Homo sapiens: one gene and its partners. The protein of the gene in region 1 interacts with the protein of each later gene in a biochemical or structural test. Each region holds a gene or a part of one and is shown in the gene's direction. Other genes may lie near its edges.

Region 1 (3,770 bases):
TAATCAAAATTTCAGAATATAAGTTACATATCCGTGTATGTGTTATAATTGTGCAATCCAATATATCATCTGCTTTGCATTTTCCTATTCTAGTTTGTACTTGCCTTCAACCTACACTGGACTTCAGTCTTCATGAAGATTCCCCCGTACATGTGGTTTATTGCCACGTCTCCAGCGTCTATCATAGTTCTTGCCACCTTAGGTCCTTGAAAGCTTTTTTATTATTTCCTCATTTAAGCTAAGTATAGGAAAGCCATATGTATGTCATACTTACTTTATCTATTTATCTCTCGAAGAGCTACATATGTTTTTAAATCTAATCTAATTTAATTTATATTTCAAGTTGATTAAAATTTACTTTAGAAGGTTCTTCAAGAATCTATAATATAACTGGTAACATTCTGACCTATTCTATGCTAAGATGTATGTGTATTTGTTCTGTGAAAAATCCCAATGCAGATATGATAACTTGTTAACACCTGATTTTTTAAGTCATTAAACCCTCTCAACAACCAAGGAGTCCCTAAAGCAATACTTATTTTTTCTTTCTTTTCAAACATGTGGCACAGGAAGGTTAAAAAATATGTTTGATGCCTGATGGGTAAACATAGCAAATCTGGTGATAGAGTTGGAACCTGAATAGCATGGTCTAAACTACCCTTAATTCTCTATGCCTAGAGCAGAACATAATTTTACCTGTGCTGGTAATGAGAAAATTCCTTGCTATGTAGATATTTAGTGAATTTTATGATATATAAAATATACTTCAATAAAATTGCTTTAAAATGAAAGTGAGGGTGCTACGTGATCAAATACAATAAGCTATGTTTCTATAACCAGAAGAAATATTTCACTTGTCTATATTTGGATGGGGCTGGTTAAGTTGCTTTGATCAGATTCCAGGTAATGCAGCTTACTCTGTTTATATATATTTAATCACAGGCTCCTGGATATCGAAACTATAGTTTGTCCATCCTTTTAGTTGAAGGGAGTGTAGGTGAATGAGCCATAGGTTAATAGGACTATTTCCCGGGAACTCTAAAAACATGGCATGTATAAAATTGAGCATACCAAGTAGATTTGGATCTTCTTGCCTGAGAAAATTCTCAATCAATCATGGACTCTATTAACCTGAGTCTGGGAAGATTCAACTGTTAATCTATTTCTTCCATGTGGAGCCAAGTTAAATGATTTCTTTAAGCTTATTTACTTATTACTTATTTGCTATTACTAGTGTATCTAAGTATAACTAGTGAAAAAATTGCCAGGATCCGACTTAGAAAAAAATATATTTCTAAAAGCTAAGGGGACTTAAAGTTATTTCCTCAGAAAACTCATCTCTGAAACTCAATCTGCATTACTTTTCCATATCATCCTTATGTTCTCTTTCAGAAAAACTATCTCTTTTTCTTCTTAGCTTGCATTGCTTGTGGTAATTTTATGATCATTTGAACGTCTACTCTGTACATTTCCCTTGCTTCAATGGACTATAAGCTCGAGTAGAGAATACACACTCAAATATTTATTAATGATTATACCAAACACCCTTGGTTTCTCATGCCACATTCTTTCAGACTACCTCCTGTTTCTCATTTCAGCAGACTTGAGGCACATTTATTAGCTGTGTGCAAGCTGAGAGTTAACTTGCATTGAAGGTGTTACACTTCAAATTTCCAGCAAGTGCTTTGCACTTTCACTCTGGAAACTTCTCCACAATTTCAGATGCTCATTTGGCTTATGTACAGTCAGCTCAAAGAATTCTTGCTCTTGGGGTCACCTTTACCCAGTAACAGTGAAAATTGTGTGTAATGCCACATCATCCTGTCACACAGGACAGCCATCTTGGGAAACATCATATGCACTTCTGAGGAAGTGCTGGTAAAATTGAACCACCATTGCTCATACCAGCTTTTCAATAACATACTCCAATATTAGCTTTTCCTTCTTCGCATTTTGACTCAAATTTGTAAACATTACTAAAAAATTAACAGCTTAAATGAAGATAAAACAATAATTTAAAGTCCGTTAGAAAACTATTTATGTTTGCTGAGTGCAGTGGCTCATGCCTGTAGTCCCAGCACTTTGGGGAGCTGAGGTGGGTGAATCACTTCTGTTCAGGAGTTTGAGACCAGCCTGGGCAACAAGGAGAAACCTCATTTCTGCAGAAAATACAAAAATTAGCTGGGCATGGTGGTGTGTGCCTGAAGTTCCAGCTACTTGGGAGGCTGAGGCAGGAGTATTGCTTGGGTCCAGGAAGTTGGGGCTGCAGTGAGCCTTGATTGTGCCACTGTACGTCAGCCTGGGCGACAGAGAGAGATTGTCCCCCAAACTACCACCACCACCAATGAACAAACAAACAAAAACTTTGACAACTTTTAATGGTCAAAAAATATTGTATATATTATTGTGTACAAGTTATTTTGAATGTGTGTGTGTGTGTATAGCGAAATGCCTAAATTGAGCTAGTTAACATATATATTACCTAACATATTTATTTGTGTGTGTGTGGTGAGAACACTAATCCAATAGATTTTTATTACTATAGTTACCATTTATACAATAGTTTTTAACTTATTCCTTCTATCTAATTAAAATATTATATCCTTTGACCAACATCTCCTCCCACACGCCCAGCTGCAGATAAACACAATTCTACTGTCTACCTCTGTGAGTTCAGCATTTTTAGATTCCACATGTATGTGAGATCATGTAGTATTTGTCTTTCTGTGCCTGGCTTATTTCATGTAATATAATGTCCTACAGGTTCATCTGTATTGTTGCAAATTTTTAAATCTAAATATTATTCCATTGTGCACATATACCACATTTTGTTTATCCATTCTTCCTAAGCGATGGACACCTAGGTTAATCTATATCTTGGCTATTGTGAATAATGCTACAATAAACATGGGAGTGCAGATATTTCTTTGACGTGCTGATTGTATTTTTTGAATATATACCCGATAGTGGTATTGCTAGGTCATATGGTAGTTCAATTTTTAATTTTTTGAGGAAGCTTTATGCTGTTTTCCATAATGACTGTACTAATTTACATTCCCATAAACAGCATGTAATGGTTCACTTTCCTCCACATCCTCTCCAACAGTTATCCGTTCTCTTTTTGATAGTAACTATCCTAACAAGTATGAGGTGATATCTCACTGTAGTTTCTCTGCAATTTGATGATTTGTAATTTTGAACACTTTTTCATATACCTGTTGACCATTTTTATGTCTTCTTTTGAGAAATGTCTATTTAGATGCTTTGCCTATTTTTAAATCTGTTTGTTTTCTTACCATTGAGATGTTTGCATTTCTTATATATGTAGGATATCAATCGCTTGTGAGATGTATGGTTTGCAAATATTTTCTTTCAAAGCAAATTTGATTAAGAAAATCTATTGTAAATTATTATCTCAAAATGATATAATACTAATAAATATTTTGAGTAAAAAGTTTAATAATCTTTATTTCCAAACAAGTTAATTAGTCTATATATGGAACTAAAATAACCTGTACAGTGCATGTGTTTCTTTTGTTCCTCAACATTTTTATTTTTAGAAGAAAACCTTATCATTTCTCCTTTGTGCAGTTCCCTAGGAACACCTCTTGTGTTTACACCAACATCTACCAGAAGCTTTCATTTAGCCCTCAAACTAAAATTATCCAAGCATTGGTGTTTTATGAGTACATTACGATATTTAATACAGTTAGTAGAGGTCAATGAAAATAAAAACTTCCATGTCTTACAGTGCATTCATTTTCTAGAAT
Region 2 (3,500 bases), on another chromosome or scaffold:
TTTTGTTTTGTTTTGTTTTGTTTTTTGAGACAGAGTCTCGCACTGTCACCCAGGCTGGAGTGCAGTGGTGCGATCTTGGCTCACTGCAAGCTCTGCCTCCTGGGTTGCTGCCATTCTCCTGCCTCAGCCTCCCAAGAAGCTGGGACTACAGGTGCCTGCCACCATGCCTAGCTAATTTTTTTTTGTATTTTTAGTAGAGACGGAGTTTCACCATGTTAGCCAGGATGGTCTCGATCTCCTGACCTCGTGATCTGCCCGCCTCGGCCTCCCAGAGTGCTGGGATTACAGGCGTGAGCCACTGTGCCTGTTCTGAACTCAGCTGTTTAAGAAGCATCATACTATCACACTCAGACGAAAGCATTCCCAGGATCAGGGTATGTTAAAAGTTCAGATTGACAGCCTAGCTCTGTCTGTATGTGATTGGCCAGAACTGTAGCACACAGCCACCCGTAGTGCAAGGAATGCCTGGCTTCCCAGCCGTTAGTGGGTTGGGAATGAGTGAGGAGAGACAGCAGGGAGCCCTGCTCTTGTATCTCCAGTAACTTCCAGCTAAACGAGCACCATCCACCCCCACCCATCCTCCTGTTCGATTTTAATAATGGAACATAAGCAGCAAACAGGCAGGGACATTTCTGGTTTACTGCTGTATTCCCTGCACTTAGGTGGTTTTTGCCACATAATAGGCTCACAGTAAACAAATATTTGTTAAAGAAATGATTGGGAGTTGTGGGTTGAACGTAAAAGAACTTCCTTTATCTTGGCTTTTGTTGAACTAAATACTGTTGAGCAAGTTCTAATCATTATTTCTATTGTACATGATCTATCTTGAACAACAGTTTATACCTCATTTATGCCTTTCCTGGGTCGTTTGAAATGACCTGTGATTGAACTCTGATATGGAACTGGTAAAAATGTGGAAGTTTCTGAAGAGGGACTGTGTTCCATCTGTTACATCAAGAACTTTATAGCCCCATTCAGAGGGGTGTGGTTCCTGGGAGCCTGGGCACCCTTAGGTGGCCGCCTTTCATGAGAGAGTATGATTCACACCTTTCCCAGGTTTCAAAGTCTCATCTGTGCTGATGCCTGCATAGCCCTATTTGAATCCCATGAGGCTGCAGTTGACTTAAAAGCCCTGGCTGGGGCTTAATCAAGCTTACTGAACAGAAAGGATTTCTGAATTGTGTAGTACTGTCTGTAGTCCTTTAGCTCTCAGTCCATTAGCAGGGTTCATTTCTACAGGAAATCATGATGTTTAAAAACCCCATCAGTATTGTATAGTGCATCTTTTGTTGACTCAGTACATGAGGATATTATTTATGCCTTAAATGTGGTAGGTGCTCAGTAGCCATAGTCTTAATTTTATATGGTAAAAGTCTTTTATCTTTAATATCTTAACGTAGTGCTAGTTCTTATAATATGACATTAGAGGGATGTCATTCTAACTCCTATTTGTTTACATTTGTGTATAAGGTATGCTGTGATAAGTGCTGTAAGCAAGGCATACATGATAGTAGAAGCATCCAATTTATCAACCAATTTTATTTGAGGATCGTTGTAACTCATTTGTTTGGAATAATAGGTCATTTTTCCCATTTAAAATGTTTTAATTTGGGCATAGTGGCTCATGCCTGTAATCCCAGTGCTTTGGGAGGCTGAGGCAAGGATTGCTTGAGCCCAGGAGTTTGAGACTAGCCTGGACTGCAAAGCAAGGCCCCATCTCTACAGAAAATTTTAAAATGAGCCGAGTGTGGTGGTGCACACCTGTCGACCTAGCCACTGGGGAGGCTGAGGAGGGCCGATCCCTTGAGCCCAGGCGTTCGAGGTTACGGTGGGCTGATCGTGCCAGTGGACCCCAACCTGTGTGACAGAGTGAGACCCTGTCACAAAAAAAAAAAAATGTTTTAAATGACAAGAATAAGTGAAGGAGACTAATGTTGATTTATGAAGAGAATAAAGAATTGGGGAGAGATATTCTTAAAGGCGAGTGTAAAATGTTACCGTGCTTGAACTTTCATTTGTGTTCTCTCATGTATACTTAACGAGAACCTTATAAGGCTGGTGGGATTTTTTTCCCTTTTACAGATACAAAAACTAAGGTTTAATGAAAGTGTGGTTTTCTGAATCTGAGTCCTTATGTTTTAAACCCATTTCTCTTGGTTCCAGCTATAGTGTTCTTTATTCTACAGCTCACTTGTAAGGTATGGTAGGTTTCAATAAATCATGATGAAAGGAAAGAATGAAAAGACAGAAAGGAAGAAGGGAGAGAGGGAGGGAACTAAAGAAGGTGTGTGCATATAAGAATGGCGGAATTACCGACTCACTATCACTGAAAGGGGGAAGTGGAGGCTGAGGGTTGGGCTAATGAGCTCATTGTTCTGGTCTAAAAACTGCCCTGTTCTCTCAGCCAGTGAATTGTCTGTTATTAACTAGAAATTTTGTAATTTGTGGTGAGGTAGCAGTTTTACTGATTGAATCAGGTTATATATTCTTTGTTGGGAAGTGAGTGGGTCCTTCTGTGATCATGCAGAGAACATTTTTTTTAGCCCGAGTCTTTGCCAAGATTAAAAGAAATATAAGAGGAAAACAATTTTTGTTTTGCATTTATATTTTGCTAGATTTGCATAATCTTTGTTTAAGCCAGTTGAATGTGAATCCCTAAATACATTTCAGGCATTTAAATATTTAAAAGGATTCATCCACAGTACTTTACTCACCCAAAGAATAAGTGCTTACAACAAAGAAAATAACACCCTTGCAGATGTAGCCTATGTAGACTTTGTTCACCTTGTCATTGAATTATACAACATTAATAGAGAAGCTAGAATTTGAACATTCACTGAAATGCTTAGCTGGCTCTGTTCCAAAATATTGTTTCCCTGGTAGAGAAAGCAGGACAATTTGTTTAAAACTGGCAGTTTGCCAGTCAGAATAGCTCTGACGCAATCATTGCAGTAACTACTTTGCTCTGACTGCTAATTTTAGGGCAGTTAAATCTGGGTGATGTCTGATGGCTGCTGTCGCTGTGCGTCTGGTTATGTGAAGCTTTCTAAATTCATCCTCTTAGCTTGGCACCGTAACTTAGTTCTTTCTGAGATAAGCTGTGGAGCAGAGGGGATGTTGAGTCGGCACAGGATATGTGCATGGAATGAGGAACAAGGCCCTAGGAGAGTTTCAAGAGACACTGCTTTCATCTTACTACGCTCTTTGTTATTCCAATAGCAAAGGCTTAGCACATCTGTACTTCCCTTGCTGTAGCACCCTGGGAGGTGTTGAGGAAGGTGGAGAGAAGTGTACATCGAGACACCTACCTTCATGGAACAGGGTTCTGGCAATATGCACTTGCTTTCCTTGTCATCCCTGCAAGCATTAGTGTGTTTAAAAGTGAACTTTTATCTTCTTCCTTTTTGGAACAGGTAAAACTACGGAGAAAAATGGTAATTTAAAAAAATCTGGCCGGGCGTGGTGGCTCATGCCCATAATCCCAGCACTTTGGGAGGCTG
Region 3 (3,500 bases), on another chromosome or scaffold:
CACACACACACACACACACACACACACACACACACACACTGCATTCTGAAGGAAACATATTGGAAAAGAGCACATGGATGTTGAAGGTGACCTGCCAGGAGCTGGGAGAGCTGCAGCCCTTGTTCCTGTCTCGGCACTTTCCTGCTGCTCTCTGATCCTCTATTCCCAGACCTCCTGTGCTCTCCCACTGTTCTGGAGAGAAAGGCCAGCTCCTCTGGGAGCCCCATCAGGCCCTTTGAGGCCCTCTGTGACATGGCCTCTGCCTGTCTCTCTCCCTCCTCCTGCATTCCTGCCATACAGACCTCCTTGCCACTTTCTACAAGTGCCTGTTTTTTCCCCCTCCTCCAGCCTTTGCACATGCTGCTCTTTCTGACCGAAACACTCCTCCCCAGATCGTGGCTGATGGTGCCCATCCGTCTATCAGATTCCGGTTGGAATTCACTTCCTCAGAGAACATTTCCCAGGCTTCCCAGGCCAGGGCAAGTCTCCCCATCTCTGTCACATGTTCTTGCATTACCTGGGGCTCTCCCTGTCTGGCACCTCGCACAGCCTGTAAATTACATATTTACTTGTATGATTCTGTGTTGATGTTTCTCTCCATCACTAGACCGAGAACTCCTTTGAGCGTTAGAACTGTGTGTTTCTCACTGTGTCCCCAGCACACAGCGTCTAGCAATTGTTGTTAAATGAATGAATGAAGTCTCCACCATCTACACTGAGTTCAATTGACTGTACCTCTAAGGAAAGGAGAAACCATGGCCAGACTCCTTACTGCTCCCCAAAGTACCCAGACAACCACTTTCCATGCCCCAGCCTTGCCCTGCAGGGCCAGCCATTGTGCCGGGGGGCAGGATGGAAGTGTGGCAGAAACCATCAGTCAGGGCCCTTTTATGGGAGTCTAGTCAGGAACATATGGGGTTCATACCAGACACTGTTTTGTTTTTGTTTTTGTTTTTTATAGGGAGCCAGTGTAGTGCTGAGAAAAGAGCCAGAACTAGGATTCCTCAGCCTGGGTTCTGATTTGGCCCCTGACTGACTATTGGAGCCTCTTTGTCTTTGGGACTTAGAAACTCCTTGGTCGGTGGCTGTCAGTAGCCTAGGGCAGTCAAATGTGACTGGGCATCAGAATCACCTGAGGGACCTTGTTTAAAAACTATAGATTTGGCCGGGCGCAGTGGTTCACACTTGTAATCCCAGCACTTTGGGAGGCAGAAGCAGGCAGATCACCTGAGGTTGGGAGTTTGAGACTAGCCTGGCCAACATGGCAAAACCCCATCTTTACTAAAAGTACAAAAATTAGCCAGGCATGGTGGCGTGCACCTGTAATCCCAGCTACCCAGGAGGCTGAGGTAGGAGAATCACTGGAACCTGGGAGGCAGAGGCTGCAGTGAGCCGAGATTGCACCACTGAACTCTAGCCTGGCCAACAGAGCAAGATTCTGTCTCAAAAAACAAAAAACAAAAAAACCTAAACCTTATAGATCCCTAGGCCCTAGCCTCAGAGATTCTGACTCCTCAGAGATTGTGGGGAGCAGCCTAGGACTTGATAAGGTTTCTAATAGCATACAGCCAGGTTAGAAATGACTGGTCTGACTACCCAAGCTCTCTGATTCTCAAGTGCTAGGCTCTGATCCTAATTCCTTCTGGCTGATTCCCAAGGGTTCTTTACAATAGTGCCTCTCCTCCCAGAAAGATCCATCCTGGGATGCACAAAACTCGATGCCTGTGACAGAGTTGTGGCCCCTTTACATTCAGACATGAAATGGCAATAACGAGCAGCTTCCTTTTAGTGAATACCTAATGAGGCAGAGGCCTTGTGCTGGGTGCTTTATAAAAATGCACTAATTCCTTTAACCTGCACGGCAGCACTGAATGGCACCATTGGCACTAAAAGACTTGGGTTAACATCAGCACAAAGAAAAAGTGTTAGGAAGTAAGATTGTTTATAGAATTGCTGGCAAGCCTGAAGACCTGGGTTCAGAAATAGACAGCAACCAGGCTAAGAGTCTAGTCACAGGATTCCCTACCTGTATTATCAAGCTATTGTGGTTGGAAAGAATGGCTCTGCTTTTTTTTTTTTTTTTTTTTTTTTTTTTTTTTTTTTTTTAATGTCTTTGGGTTTGGAATTCTGGAGAATTTGTAGCTGATTGGCTGGCGTGGACAGAGCATCTTCGTGAACAGTTCCAGCAGACTCTAACCATTGGGGAGATGTCATTCCCTAAACAGAAGTTGAGATGCTGTGACCAAAAGATAATTAAATGGATCTTAGGCATCCAAAAATTTAATAATGTCTATCACAGCTGGGTGCAGTGGCTCAATCCTATAATCCAAGCACCTTGGGAGGCTGAGGTGGGAGGATTGCTTGAACTCAGGAGTTCAAGGCTGCTGTGAGCCGTCACACCACTGCACTATAGCCTGGGGGACAGAGTGAGACCCTGTCTCAAAAAAAAAGAAAAAAAAAAGTCGGCCAGGCGCGGTGGCTCATGCCTGTAATCCCAGGCCTAGGTAGGCGGATCATTTGAGGTCAGGAGTTCGAGACCACCCTGACCAATATGGTGAAACCCCATCTCTACTAAAAATACAAAAATTAGCTGGGCATGGTGGCAGATGCCTGTAATCTCAGCTACTCCGGGGGGATGAGGCAGGAGAATTGCTTGAACCTGGGAGGCAGAGGTTGCAGTGAGCCGAGATCACGCCACTGCACTCCAGCCTGGGTGACAGAAAGAGACTCCGTCTCAAAAAAATAAAAAAAAATCTGTCACAATTATTATCCCCATCTTTCAGATGAGGAAGTTGAGGAGATCAGGATTGAACTTGCTCAAGGTTACACAGCCTAGCCAGAATTTAAACCCAGGAAAGCCCAAGGCCTGAGCCCAAGCTCTATTAACCTCTTTTTTTTGTGCTTTTTAATGTATTTTTTCTTTCCTGACTCCCAGGGCCCAGAGATGTTTCTACTGCAGAACCCAGTGCCACAAGCTTGCAGAATAAGGCCAGCACTTCTAGCCCTGAGAACAGCCTGCCTTGTGGGCCAGATGGAAGACAGCCAAGCAGGAGGGGAGGGGTGAAGAAATATGCCAAGACCCTGAGGAAAAGAAGGTCTTTCCTACAGACCGACTACACCTCTCAGGTCTCATTTCCCCTGGTGCCATCAGCCTCCCTGGAGAGTGTAGACGACGTGTGCTACTATGACAGGGAGCCCTACCTGGCCCTTGGTGCACCCTCCCCAACTGTGTCCTCTCTGCAGGACATGCAGGGTGAGCCTGGCCTTCTGGAGACCAAGGCCTTGGGGCTGCTGGCTCCTCTGAGGGAGACCAAGAGCACAAACCCAGCCTCCAGGGTCATGGAGATGGAGCCCGAGACCATGGAAACCAAATCAGTCATCGACTCTCGAGTGTCTTCTATTTCTGCCATTCGCTTCCGGATTGACCCCAACAATAAAGAGAATTCTGGTGTTGTCCCTGCTGCCAGCTCCTCAGCAAGCACTCCTCACTGTTCTAACCC
Region 4 (3,500 bases), on another chromosome or scaffold:
ATGTCCCAGCCCCGTAGAGGAAGTGGTGTGTACCGTGTGGCTTCACCCCCGAGCAAGGCCTCTCCTTGCAGATGCACAGGCAAAGCCTCCTCCCCTTCTTCCCACAGGGCCTGCCCCGGTCCCTGCCACCATCCCCAGCCTCTCCTACTTCCCCCATCACAGAGACCCTCTGAGCTGGTTTGGGGGAGCCCTGCCTTCAGAACCTCCCGCTGTGCAAGCTGCCCAATGTCTGATCGCTCACACCGAATCCTGAGGGCTCATCCCAGATTGACTTATATCCCGCAGAAGCAGACTGAATGACTCTTCTGAAGTTTAGAGTGTTTCTCCCATCCACCTTTGCTGGCCCTTTGGTCCCTGGGTGTGCACAGAGCCGGCAAACAGCCTGATGAGGAGGCCCCGGAACCAAGCCTCATTCCACCCTGATAGGGATCAGACGGCGGGTCCAGGCGGACACGGAGCCGGCAATGAGCAGTCACCAGAGGCCGCAGGCCAGGGCTCCAGGGACTTGCTTGTTTTCACGGTACTTTCCCTGAGGCCTCCAGCCTCCCTGTGACGAGGCTCCACTGCCCTAGGCCCGGCCCTGGGGACTGAGCATCTGGTGGCTCATGGGGAGATCCCAGGAGTGATTCCTGCTCCAGCACCGCCTCCCTGCTGGCTGGCTCGGCGCTTGTCTGGTCCAAGCCCCTGTCACTAGGCGTCACGGCCCCTCTGCCCTCCCCATCCCGGGCTCTCCAGCAGAGGTCGTGCTCCTTGAACAGGGGTGTGAGAGCGCGTGACGGGCATATAGCACCTCAGCATCACATCCTCCACACCTGCTGGGAGCTCCCTGGGCTGTGGGCTGTGTAGCCCATGTTTCTCAAAACAGCCCTGGAGGCACCACCCATGCAGGACCCACAGCCCTGGTTGCCACCCTGTCCGGTGCCCCGTGCTGATGGACCTCTCACTGCCCCCTTGGCAGCACACTGACCCCTCACTGCCCTTCCCTCGAGCCCCGGGCCCTGAGACATGTCATTGAGGAAATTATAACTGGATGCACTAAGTGGCACGTTGCTGGCCTTCCAGGAGGTAGGGATGGGGGCAGCATCTTTCTGGAAGGCCCCAGCCACCAGGCTCTGAACCAACTAATTACTGACTCCAGCCCGGCTGGGAGGCCGTTTCTGCCCTCAGAGCCTCCAGTGACTGATGCTCTGAGTGGGTGGGTGAGACCCAGCAAAGATGAGACAGATGCTTTTCCAGCACAGGCCTCCCGGCTGTGACCCCTGACCTGAGGTCTGAGTGTGGGCATGGAGGCCAGTGGGCAGCCGCGGGCATTTTCTGCAGACCCCGCAGGTGCCTGGCCCTGTGAGGCACCCTGGGGCTTCCGCAGGCAAAACAGGTGCAGTTCCTACTCTGGGGCACACACGGAGTGGGTGTGGCAGAAGCTGGCTGCGGATGTGAGTGGACAGATGCTGGGGTCACCGTGTGGGGTGGCCAAGTGGCCAGATGCCCAGGCTGCCTGGGGCAGACCCCTGCTTTGCCCTTTGCCTGCCCGCCTGACCTAGGCAAGTAGTTCAGCGTCTCGGGACTCAGTTTTCCCACCATAAAGACCTGAGAGTTAGGGACGACAGTAGTTTCTTGTGGCTGCCATAACAAAGTACCACAGACTGCATGGCTTAAAATGACAGAGATGTTTGCTCCCATGGTTCTGGAGGCTGGAAGTCCTAATCAAGGTGTCAAGGTCCTAATCAAGCAGGGCTGCTTTCTTCTGGGGGATGTTGGGGGAGTGTCCCAGGCCCCTCTACTGGCTCTAGTGTTTTCCGCAGTCCTTGGTACGCCTCGGCCCTTAGACCCCTCTCTCTGCTCTGTCTCCATCATCTCATGGCCTTCCCCTCTGTGAGACTGGACTTCCCTCCCTTAAAGACAACACAGACACACTCTGATGTCACCGTAACTTCAGGACACCTGCAAAGACCCTGTTTCCAAATAAAGTCACATTCACAGTCACATGGGGTTAGGACTTGGCCGTATCTCTTGGCAGGGATACAGCTCACCACAGCACCCCCCTTGCAGGGTGCCCATGAGCATTCAATGGCCTGCCTGCCTCAGAGGGAGCACAGGGTGGCATTCGCTGCCATCTCTGGTCCTGTGGGTCACAGCGAAGCTCCTGTACTTTGCAGAGACTGTCACCTCCCTGCACGTGCCAGACGCTCCCATCCCTCCATGCTTTGTCTCTTGCTCTCACCTGCCTGCACGTGCCAGACGTTTCCATCCCTCCATACTTTGTCCCTCGCACATTTTCCTTGCTCATCTCTACTAAGCAGCCTCAGGGAGTGAGTACCTGCTCTGGGCTGGGCCCCACGCTGGGGTCCCGAAGGTTCCCACCCTGGAGAAGGTCCCAGGCTGTGTCTGGCATTCAGCCTCCTCCCCTGCTGGATGTGGGGCTGTGGTTTCTACTCAGAGAGCTCTGGTGAGAACTGGGGATTGTTGCCCATCGGCAGACACCAATGCAAACCCAGGCCAGCTCCACACCGTTCACAGAGGGCAGGGCCCAGGCTGGCCTCATCTGTGCCTCTGCACCCCTGCCCTCGGGGTGTCCAGGGCTCGGGTCCTGCATCTGCCTGCTGCCAGCACTGCCACATTTGGGGCTTTAGGCAGCTAGCCTGGGGGTGAGGGTAGAGGGAGGTGGGAATAAGCCTTCTCAGCCCTCCCAGCACTCACCCTGTCGGGATGATCAGGAATCTGCCCCAGCCTCTGGGGAGCCTCCCTTCCTGGGTACCTGCTGCAGCCCTGCAGGATGCTGTGTGTGCAATGGGGCTTTTCCCCTAGGGCCAATTATTGTCCTGTTTGTTGAGAGGCGTTTTAGAGCCCAGGCATCACCACTCGGCGGAGGAGGTGTTGTTGTCCCATTTCCCAAATGGGGAGACCAAGGCTCAGAGAGCTTCACTGACCTGCCCACGGTCAGGCAGATAATAAGTGGGTCCTGGACTTGGGATTAGCATCCTGGTCTGTCTGGCTCCGTGCTCCGTAGTCAGGATGGCGAGTGCAAGCTGGGAGTCATCTGACATGTCGCAGGCAGCCTGTCTCATCTCAGCAAATTGCAGCGAGAGGTGATCATCATCACCTCTTTATGGCTGTGAATGGGTGCAGGCGCCGGTGACTTGGCCAGGTCACAGGGCCAGGATTCAAATGGGAGCTTGAGGGACTCCAGACCTGTGTTCTGTCAGCCACACACTGGCTCTGCTCCTCGCTGACCAGCCCCACCACTGCGCCTGACTCCCCCGCGTCCTAGCCCCACCCTAAATGCCCGCCTGTGTCTCCCTGGCTGCAGACACCCGCTGTTTGGCCGCAACGTGCCCCTGTCCAGCGGTTCTGGCTTCATCATGTCAGAGGCCGGCCTGATCATCACCAATGCCCACGTGGTGTCCAGCAACAGTGCTGCCCCGGGCAGGCAGCAGCTCAAGGTGCAGCTACAGAATGGGGACTCCTATGAGGCCACCATCAAAGACATCGACAAGAAGTCG

The links.
Region 2: the proteins of OR8G1 (region 1) and SIPA1L2 interact in a test that uses a peptide from one of them, tested with the Homo sapiens proteins (one large-scale study listed by IntAct).
Region 3: the proteins of OR8G1 (region 1) and FRMPD1 interact in a test that uses a peptide from one of them, tested with the Homo sapiens proteins (one large-scale study listed by IntAct).
Region 4: the proteins of OR8G1 (region 1) and HTRA3 interact in a test that uses a peptide from one of them, tested with the Homo sapiens proteins (one large-scale study listed by IntAct).

What each region holds. Positions count from the first base shown.
Region 1 is NC_000011.10:124,251,095-124,254,864, forward strand, and holds the end of OR8G1 (olfactory receptor 8G1), read left to right. Parts: 3' UTR 1-3,270; downstream 3,271-3,770. UniProt on the Homo sapiens protein: Odorant receptor.
Region 2 is NC_000001.11:232,620,134-232,623,633, reverse strand, and holds part of SIPA1L2 (signal-induced proliferation-associated 1-like protein 2), read left to right. Parts: intron 1-3,500.
Region 3 is NC_000009.12:37,741,454-37,744,953, forward strand, and holds part of FRMPD1 (FERM and PDZ domain-containing protein 1), read left to right. Parts: intron 1-2,935; coding exon 2,936-3,500. UniProt on the Homo sapiens protein: Stabilizes membrane-bound GPSM1, and thereby promotes its interaction with GNAI1.
Region 4 is NC_000004.12:8,283,254-8,286,753, forward strand, and holds part of HTRA3 (serine protease HTRA3 isoform 1 precursor), read left to right. Parts: intron 1-3,307; coding exon 3,308-3,500. UniProt on the Homo sapiens protein: Serine protease that cleaves beta-casein/CSN2 as well as several extracellular matrix (ECM) proteoglycans such as decorin/DCN, biglycan/BGN and fibronectin/FN1.